Regions from separate parts of the Homo sapiens genome. Here all the other regions are reported to be linked to region 2. Evidence: microRNA targets listed by miRTarBase, many of them from high-throughput screens and not tested one by one. Region 2 holds a microRNA gene; each other region holds the end of a gene's coding sequence.
What was found. The annotated mature microRNA hsa-miR-4773 reads CAGAACAGGAGCAUAGAAAGGC and lies in region 2 at 1,644-1,665, opposite strand. An mRNA with a match to its seed (bases 2 to 7 or 8) in the 3' UTR can be bound and repressed. Matches are read on the target gene's strand: a 7mer-m8 pairs with bases 2 to 8, a 7mer-A1 pairs with bases 2 to 7 and ends in A, and an 8mer does both.

Region 1: miRTarBase lists PGAP4 as a target of hsa-miR-4773. The part of its 3' UTR that is shown has no 7-base or 8-base seed match.
Region 3: the mRNA of NUP37 is a reported target of hsa-miR-4773. Seed matches in the 3' UTR shown: 7mer-m8 at 607-613, 7mer-A1 at 1,259-1,265 and 7mer-m8 at 1,361-1,367.

What each region holds. Positions count from the first base shown.
Region 1 is chr9:101,473,284-101,476,546 of GRCh38, reverse strand. PGAP4 (post-GPI attachment to proteins GalNAc transferase 4) reads left to right here. Exons shown (of 2, transcript NM_032342.3): 2 at 1-3,263. The coding sequence ends at 666. The region is part of intron 1 of TMEM246-AS1 (TMEM246 antisense RNA 1); the gene reads right to left. Among named protein-coding and RNA genes, the nearest start is that of TMEM246-AS1, 6.5 kb to the right of the region's middle.
Region 2 is chr2:151,366,700-151,369,962 of GRCh38, forward strand. MIR4773-2 (microRNA 4773-2) reads right to left here and starts at 1,712; the gene lies at 1,635-1,712. All of the region lies in intron 3 of TNFAIP6 (TNF alpha induced protein 6), which reads left to right. MIR4773-1 (microRNA 4773-1) reads left to right here and starts at 1,635; the gene lies at 1,635-1,712. The region is part of intron 2 of LOC101929319 (a long non-coding RNA gene); the gene reads right to left.
Region 3 is chr12:102,071,522-102,074,784 of GRCh38, reverse strand. NUP37 (nucleoporin 37) reads left to right here. Exons shown (of 10, transcript NM_024057.4): 10 at 318-1,682. The coding sequence ends at 431. Among named protein-coding and RNA genes, the nearest start is that of WASHC3, 11 kb to the right of the region's middle.

The sequences.
Region 1 (3,263 bases), not on the chromosome of region 2:
TCGTTTGAGAAAGAGAAGCAGGACTATGTCTATTGCCTGGAGTCATCCCTGCAGACCTACAACCCAGACTACGTCCTGATGGTAGAAGACGATGCTGTACCAGAAGAGCAGATCTTCCCAGTCTTGGAGCACCTTCTGCGGGCTCGCTTCTCTGAGCCACATCTCAGAGATGCCCTTTATCTCAAGCTGTATCACCCCGAGAGGCTCCAGCACTACATCAATCCAGAGCCCATGCGGATCCTGGAATGGGTTGGTGTAGGCATGTTGCTGGGGCCCTTACTAACCTGGATATACATGAGGTTTGCCAGCCGCCCAGGGTTTAGCTGGCCTGTAATGCTCTTCTTCTCCCTGTATAGCATGGGTCTGGTGGAGCTGGTGGGTCGGCACTATTTCCTGGAACTGCGGCGGCTGAGTCCTTCCCTGTACAGTGTGGTTCCTGCCTCTCAGTGTTGCACCCCAGCCATGCTCTTCCCGGCACCTGCGGCCCGCCGGACCCTCACCTACCTGTCCCAAGTGTACTGCCACAAGGGCTTTGGCAAGGACATGGCACTGTACTCGCTGTTGAGGGCCAAGGGAGAGAGGGCCTATGTAGTGGAGCCGAACCTCGTGAAACACATCGGGCTCTTCTCCAGTCTCCGGTACAACTTTCATCCCAGTCTCCTCTAGGGTGCCAAGAGATGCCTTTCTGAAGTTGGCCACTTCTTGAAGATTCAAATATTTATCTCTTTATTTAGACATGGTTGCCTGCAGGTATTTCACTGTTTACTGTTGTTAGAGATATAGGCACTGGGGCAGCTGAGGAACCTCAATATGTTAAGAGCCTTGGCTTTGGTAGCCTCCTGGCAGGAGCAGCAGTTTGCCACAGGTCCGGACCTCTCCCTCCACACAGCCACACTGCCTCATGCAGTCTGACCCACCCAGTGAGGGTGCATTTGAACACTGATTATATTCTCCATTTGTTTTTAAGCTCTGCTTTGTGTTAGAGCTTGTGACTGCCAAAAATTTTGTGCACAGTGATATGACTGTTTTAGGATCTTAAGGGTAGAATTTTGTGAAAGGTGAGATCCTTTGGAATTGAGTTCTTTCTCATTGGGTATGAAAATGGATGTATGTTTAGAATATATGCCCAACGAGGCAGGACCATGTGGATAGATTCCATTTGTTTCCTTGACCTGATGTAATAAAAACTGATAAAAGCCGTGCAGTGCCCGGCATCTTGGAGGCAGGTGATCTGGCTTTTCTGTTACCTGGGATTTTCTTTTCCTATATATCTGTAGTGCACTGATAATTGATATTGTTAGTGAGAACTTTAAGGCACGACAAGATCTGGAAGAGCTTGTGAACCATCAAAGTCAGATTGCTTATGTTGAGTAGTGATTTAACATTGAACATTTCTGTACTACTCTGACTCTTTGAAAATTGGACATTTCAGAATGATACAATATAGGGGAGCTCTTTACAAGTAGCATATCATTTTTCCTGACTTTCCTGGCTGACTGCTTACCTTCATTTCTTTTTCTTCTAGGTAGCATGATGTTATAGAAAAAAAAAAAAAAAAATCATGGACTGAAGTCAGAAGACCTGACCTTTTATTTCAGATCTCTGCCATGGCCTAACGACGTGACCACCTTGGGCAGGTCATATAATCACTCTGGGTCTCAATTTCTTCACCTGTAAAATGAGGACAGTAATACTTACATGTTAAAGTTGCCTTGAGGATTAAATGGCAGAATATATGTAAAACACCTAGCAAGTGCTTAGTCCATAGAAGACGCTTGGCAAACTTTTCTCTCCTATAATAAACATATACAACTCAAGCTTATTTCGGAAAAAGATATTGGTGATGTTGTTTAAAGTATGAGATAGGGCATGGAGCTGCCACCTATGTACCAGCTATTCCAGATGACCAAGCCCTGCTAGAATAAAGACTGACTTTTCATTGTGACCTCTGAAGGATGTGCAGCTCAGCTTTCACCTATCCCCACGTTCACCCAAGCCAAAAAGAAGAATTGTTCATTCAAACTGGAAATGATCTCCAGCTTGGAAATGAGACTCCTCATGAGCTTATTCTAAGATCAGAGTCTGAAAATTATTTTCTCAAAAGTTACAAATAAATGTCTTTTAACAGTACTGTCAGACTAGTGACCAACAAGTTACTTTATGAGGATGGATGATGATATTAGAGTTCAAGCAATTGTCCAGTTTGTTTCGATGCCACAGTTTGCTTTTAAATTCCCATAGTGAGCTTCCATCTTGAGACCCACTCAACACAGAAGGATTACATAAAGGTTGATCACCCACGCTCTACAGATGAACAAATTGAGACCCAGAGATGCTAAACTGCTCTGCAGGTCACAAACCTGAACAGCAGCATAGCCAAAATGGGAACGGAGCTCTTCTGACTTCAAGCCCCTGCACTTTTTTCTTAACCACATTAATTTTATGAATATCTATGTGGTCAAAGTCTCTTTTGTAAAATCTGAGTATAAGCTGAACTAGATCATGTCTCTGTAAGCTAAGATGGCAGAAACACATTGTCATGTTAGTTTGGAGGAGCAAACAGATATAAGTATGTGTTGTAATGTTATAGTGAGCTGTTATGTATCCCCCAGCAATGTCCAAAGTGATCAGAGCTACTAGATGACTTATTACAATGTTCAGATCCCACTCCTTCATTCCTCCTCTCTCAGTGACCTGTCTACCCCCAAGCTTTAGAACTGAGCTCTCTCCAACTTAGAACTCATTAGAGTTTGTTGCATTAGTGATTGGATCTCCTCATGAAAGTTTTTTGACCAATGACAGTAGAGCCCCTTTAAGCTAGCCAGGCCCAAGATAGGGAAGCACTGCTGGTTTACATTTCTGCTCTTTCTAATTCAGTTGTCTATTGCATGCAGACATCCCCTGCCCGACTTCTCCATTATGGAAGGCTAAGGCCATCCTTCCTTGTCCAGTTTCTCTACCTACACACTAACATGCCTTTTCCCCATGGAGTGAACTCTGCCAGTTGTCTTTGGACATTTTCTGCAGATGCAGGCTCAGTTCTGCTCTTTTGTTCCCACCCACTTCTAGATCTTCCTCCATTTAATCCCTTATTCTTATAAGGAGTCTAATTTTTGTGTATTGTCCTTGATTAGGGCAGCTGACAGCTTTACACCAAAGCTGAAGTCTCTCACTTAATCCTAAGCAAGGGGCTAGGGAGAACTAAGATATCCTTCCCATATCAAGGGATATAGGTTACTAGAAGGGTGGAGGTCTCTTAACAG
Region 2 (3,263 bases):
CAAAGTAAACAAATAAATTCTTTCCTTAATTTCTTTTTGTGTATATATGCTAGTACTTCCAAACTAAGCAACTCTAATTCTATGGTTTAACAATTATATACTGTATATACTAGCTATCATTATACCATATATTTTTATTCATATTTTTTCCATGTTTGCTTGCAACTAGGAAATAATGAGAAAATTAACTCATAATTACTATAAAGAATTATTCTTAGGTCACGTTCTTGGAGAAAAAGTAGGCTGTTCTTTTTGGGTATATTTCCACCAGGACAATGTTACAAAATATTACAGTATGTTACAAAGTCTTCCTGGCATTTAGGATCATAAACATCCTCAGATGTGTCCCATTTGGATTTACCCTATAAGAAATTCCATAACACAGTAGGAGAGTTACATAGTGAGGTTTTAGTGTATTATTATAAAATCTATTATTTAATTATATTAACATTTGGAGAATAGTTTCTCATGTCTGTAACTAACCTATATCTCAAAATTATGTGTAGTCCAAGTAGAAAGATTTTTGCCTACAGCTACAACTAGTCTTAACTGAGACAAAATAGGAATAAATACTTAACAGTGCATTTATGTAACTTTAACTTTCAAGTCACTTTGACATGCTTTAAGCTTATTTAGTCCTATACTATACAGTACTAATTTAGTCCTATATTTAGTTATGTCAACAATATGTATCTTCCTTTCCTCCCTCCCTCTCTTACATTTTCTTAAATATATTTATGCAGACCACTCTTTTTTACTCTTAAGAGTAACTCTTCTTTTCAAATGTATTCTCTGATTCTTCTTTCACTTGATAAACTTTAGGATCTCTGAGCTTCCACTGGATAATTTCCATAGATTAAACTCTAGAGTCATTGAAGAAGTGCCAATGAAATGGTCCTTTCAGTATTTCATTGCCCTTTCATAAGAATATAATCCTAAATTATAAATTATTATAAGTTGCTTTCTTTTCTCAGAGAGGCTGAATACACTCTGGGAATACAGAATCCTGGGAGATTTGTTTTTACCCAATTCTCAGTGCATTTAGCTCGCTTTTGGATTTGGTGGTATGCTGACTATTTAGGATGTGGTTAACTTGAAGGAGACTTGACCGCCTGAACTAGCACTGGGGGAACAGCTCACTGAAACATCACTGGAATAAAAAAAAAAAATAATGGCTTCACAAAAATAAAGCAATCATTATTGATTAATCAATGTCACCAAGTTAGAGCTGATATTCTAAATAATAGATGAGGCAGTAACTAGATATAACATAAAATATAGATCTAAATAAATATAGCCAAATAGGCAGCCAAATTAGTTCAATATTTGAATTTTTTCTAATCTATTAATATATACAACAAAGATTGGATGCTATGGGATGGAACAACTCGCTCCTAAAGCTGGCAATGTACATCCTTATGCAGACATACAAACTATGTGTTGTATATTTTATTATACAGTAAGAATAGCTTATGGGTTGCATAACATCCTTAAATTATTTTCTGTATTTTATCCTTAGAATAACCCTGTGTGATAGATAATGGGAAAGGTATGGCTACATTTATTTTACCAATGAAGAAAATGAAGTGTAGAGTAGTCACCAAGCTTGAACTAGATCCTTGACCTTCATTTGTTGCTCCCCAGCCTTTCTATGCTCCTGTTCTGCTTTATTTCATCAAAGCAGAACAGGAGCATAGAAAGGCTGGGGAGCATCTTTTTTCTAGACATTAGACACTTACCTGATATGGAATTAAAATTAACCAGGGCTTCTTCCTAGCTTTCCCTCTAGGTCATATTGCAAACCACTGATTCTGAGACAGCGTTTTTGTTTTGTTTTATATGTGTTTGTTTTTCTTATGACAATTTATAACATATTGAAATCTGTTAAATGATGAATGACTTGGAAAAACAAACATGAATATCTCCATCAAATCTTAAAATATTAGGATTAGGGTATTAGTTTAAAATCAGTAAAGGCAGTATACAGAATAATTATAAATTATTCCTTTTAAGTGGATTAGAGTGACTTTAAAGTCTCTTGCGATCATGAAATTGTATAATGATTTTCCAAGCAGAATTTATGGGATCCATTATTCTAAGTGCTTGTGGCCCTGAAGACATATGGTGACACCACAGGGCAAAGTCCCTACCATCTTGATAGGGCTGTTTGTAATATAAATGTGTATATATTTGTCAAAATACATAGACATAGGCCAGGTGCCATGGCTCACACCTATAATCCCAACACTTTGGGAAGCTGAGGTGGGTCGATCACCAGAGGTCAGGAGTTCAAGTCCAACCTGGCCCACATGGCAAGACCCTATCTCTACTAAAAATACAAAAATTAGCCAGACGTGGTGGCTCATGCCTGTAATCCCAGCTACTCAGAAGGCTGAGGCATAAGAATTTCTTGAACAATTGCAGAGGCTACAGTGAGCCGAGATTGTGCCACTGCACTCCAGCCTGGGCAACAGAGTGAGACTCCATTTCAAAAAACAACAACAACAAAAAATAGGCGTGTGCACAAAAGACTTGTTATGTTATGCCTTAAAAGATAAAATAAAAATATTTTTAAAAGTACAATTAATTACATTACAATTCTTTTAATTTTAAAATTTATTTTTATTTTTATTTTTTAGAGCTGGAGGTCTCACTATGTTGCCCAGGTTGGCCTCAAACTCCTAGGCTCATGAGATTCTTCTGCCTCAGCCTCCCAATTAGCTGGGACTAAGGGTGAGCATCACTACACCTAGCCATTTTTTTCTTACTATATTTACTTTTTTAAAATTCATGGCTGGGCACAGTGGCTCATGTTTATAATCTCAGCACTTTCAGAGGCAGAGGCAGGAGGCTCACTTGAGGTCAGGAGTTCAATACCAGCCTGGGCAACATTGCAAGATCCATTTCCACACAAAAAAAATAAAAATTACCAGGGCTGGGTGGCACATGCCTGTCATCCCAACTACTTAGGAGGCTGAAGTGGGAGGATTGCTTGAGCCAAGGAGTTCAAGGCTGCAATAAGCTATGATTGGGTCACCGCACTCCAGCCTAGGTGACAGAGCGAGATCTTGTCTCAAAATATAAAAATAAAAATAAATTCACAAAGAGTCCATGTTCATTTTAGAGAATTTAGTAACTATTGATGAAAAAATACATTTATTCTTTAGCTAAAAGCATACATAATATACCATAGATGCTGTATACTAAGACATTTAACATTTCATAAAAAGTAATAGATTGCTAAGAAATGTCATTTTTAACAG
Region 3 (3,263 bases), not on the chromosome of region 2:
CAGTATTCATATAAGAAGCTTTTTATTCTGTTGCTTTTATATTTTCTTCTTTATTTAAATACATTAATTTTGCTTGTTTGGTTGGTGTAGACTGCAAAAATGGAGTCTGGACTGTACCAGTTATTCATAGATGGATTGTATCCCATGTTTCAGCTGCGTATCAATAATGTGTATTTCACCTGTAAGGGAGCATATTTTTAAATTTTGTTTATGCTACAAAGATAAATCATCAATGCATTTCATATTTTTGAAAGTCATTTTTATTTATTAATTTTGGGGACTTACTGTGCTTCTTTAATTCTTCACATATTTTATAGCCCATCCTCATGGGTTCTGTAGCCGTTGGATCTGGACTGTCCTGGCATCGAACTCTCCCTCTGTGTGTAATTGGAGGAGACCACAAGCTGTTGTTTTGGGTGACTGAAGTATAAAGTGTTTTCTGTACCTTAGATTCACAAACTTTGTATTTTTAGTACATATTTTGAAGAATTTCTATAGTACATATTTTGAAGAATTTTTATATCAAATATACCGTATACTTTAGAAAATGTCTCAGTTGCTTTTATTAAATAAAATGTTGATGGTTTGAAAAATTATTTTTCTACTCTGTTCTCTGTGTGTGTATATATATATATTTTTAATCTTACAAAATCATATTGACTCAGCAGCTCACCTCCAGAGAAGAGATGACTAAGGAAAAATAATGCTTTTGAGTTTATCAAAAAAGGAGTATTTGAAGTGTATCCTGTTTTCTATACTTTGAGTATATGCTGTTTTTCTAATTCTCAGGGACACATTTATCAAAAGAGAAAAAAAGGCCAGGTACAATGGCTCACACTTGTAATCCCAACACTTTGGGAGGCTGAAGGGAGTGGATCACTTGAGGTGAGGAGTTCAAGACCAACCTGGCCAACATGGTGAAACCCTATCTCTACTAAAAAAATAAAAATAAAAAAAATTAGCCAAGCATGGTTTGGAAGACTGAGGCAGGAGAATCACTTGAACCTGGAAGGCAGAGGTTACAGTGAGCCAAGATCGTGCCACTTCACTGCAGCCTGGGCGACAGAGCGAGACTATCTCAAAAGAAAAAAAATCCAAGGAGAAAAAAATATCTTAGGGTATTCTGGAAGTGGTTGTTGAGTATATATATGTGTATGTGTACTCAATTTAATGTAAAAAATTGTTTTCAGTTTCTTAAATATGTGATTGATTATATTGCTCAACCCTGTTTATTATACGCAGATTCCTTTGGACGAGGTGTTCTAACAGTCTTAGAACATCTGATATATGGGATCAAAAGTTACCTTGAAAAATGACTTCTAGTGTATACCTTTAACAGCCTCCTTTTTGTGAATTTTCACTGTTCTTACCAAGAAACTTAAGTGTTTTTGAGATGGGACCTGTTGGCAATGGAACTGTGTTCACCCTCTCAAAGATCATTAAAATCAACGTTATCTAAGACAGCTGTATCACATTTTTGGGATACATCATGGTACAGTCAGAAGCATATAAAATTATGGTTCTGCTTGTCAGTCACATACAGAATCCAATACATTTTGACAAACTGCCCATTCCTGCAAGTTAATGCCCTTTTTGAAGCTTCATTTCCTCTTGTAAAGTACAGATAGGAATCATTATTTTGTGGAGTTGCTGTAAAGATTAAATAAAGGTGAATGAAAATACCTAGTATGTGTCTGTCACGTGGTTCAGAGATGTATAGAAATTATTTATTTCAGAGATGAGTAGGTCTTATTTTTGAGGTTTTAGAGATTTATGTTTAATGCCAGTAAATATTTTTTACTCCAGTTTTCTATTCTTAAGGTGTCTTAAAATAATTGTAGAATCAAGAACATTATATTTTTAAGAGATAGGAGAATGTTCCAGGTAATTAAAAGAAAGAATTCAGTGAAATTTTATAACCATGTAGATGTTTGGGTTCAACTTTTACATGCTTTAAAGTACAGATGAAAAATTTTATAGCAATTTCCTAGTCAATTTTTTAATACAGTTAAATATTATAACCAAATGATATAAATTGTTTTGTTTACCCCTTCATAAGAAGATTTTGAACTAACAAAGGAAAAAGCAAAGAGCAAGGAATTTTGACATGGTTCTCTTTAAGAATCTCTGTGATGGGGCAAGGATTCCTAAAAGCATCAGGATAGCCAAAGGGCTATCAATAGTGACTCTTACAAGAATTTGTCATTTCAGGATATGTCCAAGAAATATAAAAATCATCTCTAAGGCTAGTGTGTTCAAAAATTGTTGTCATATACTTAGAAAAATTGATGCATGAAGTGGGTGGGTTTTATTTAGGGATGGAAATTAAGGAGATGATTATGTTGGGCTTGGGTATATAAGAAATGGATTCTCTGGAATAAGGGCTTAACCAAAATATAAAAGTTGTCTGATGAAATTACCCAGTAGGGCTGGGCGCAGTGGCTCATGCCTGTAATCCCAACACTTCGGGAGGCCGAGGTGGGCGGATCACTTGAGGTCAGGAGTTCAAAACCAGCCTGGCCAACATGTTGAAAACCCACCTCTACTAAAAATACAAAAACAAAATTAGCAGGACGTGATGGCACGTGCCTATGATCCCAGCTACTTGGGAGGCTGAGCCATGAGAATCGCTTGAACCCTGGAGGCAGAGGTGGTGGTGAGCCAAGATTACACCACTGCACTTTAGCCTGGGTGACAGAGCAAGACTCCATCTCAAAAAAAAAAAAAAAATACCCAATAGAACTTCTATCTTTTAGTAGGGGAAGCTGTTTTGGGAAAAGATAACTCATGATGATTGTATACTGTTATGCCAAAAAGAGGCAGGAAGTGTTATCCTCAGAAGAAAATAGTGATTCCATTTGTGGATTAATATAGTGACTGTAAGATAAGACATTCTCAAGAAATGAGAGGGTTGCCTTTACCTGTTAGTTTCAGGAGTGAAATGTACTTTATCCTATGTAAGCATTGAGAACTCTAACCTCTTTTTCTTTTTTTAGATCTTAAAAGTAGGCTACAGGACCATGTTCCAACTTATACTTTGTTGTTAAACTTTATTGTGTTTAATTATTTTAAAATCGTATAATGTTGTTTTTTTCTTAGTAAACTTTGTTCTTCGAAATATGTTTATATTACACTAAGACAGGAGGAAGTATTTATGAGGAATTAGTTATTGGTCATCACTTCTAATTCCTGATGATAATATGAGATATTTCACATTGTGTGTATGTCCCAGTTTTAGTTTTTCCATGTTTGTTTATAAATAT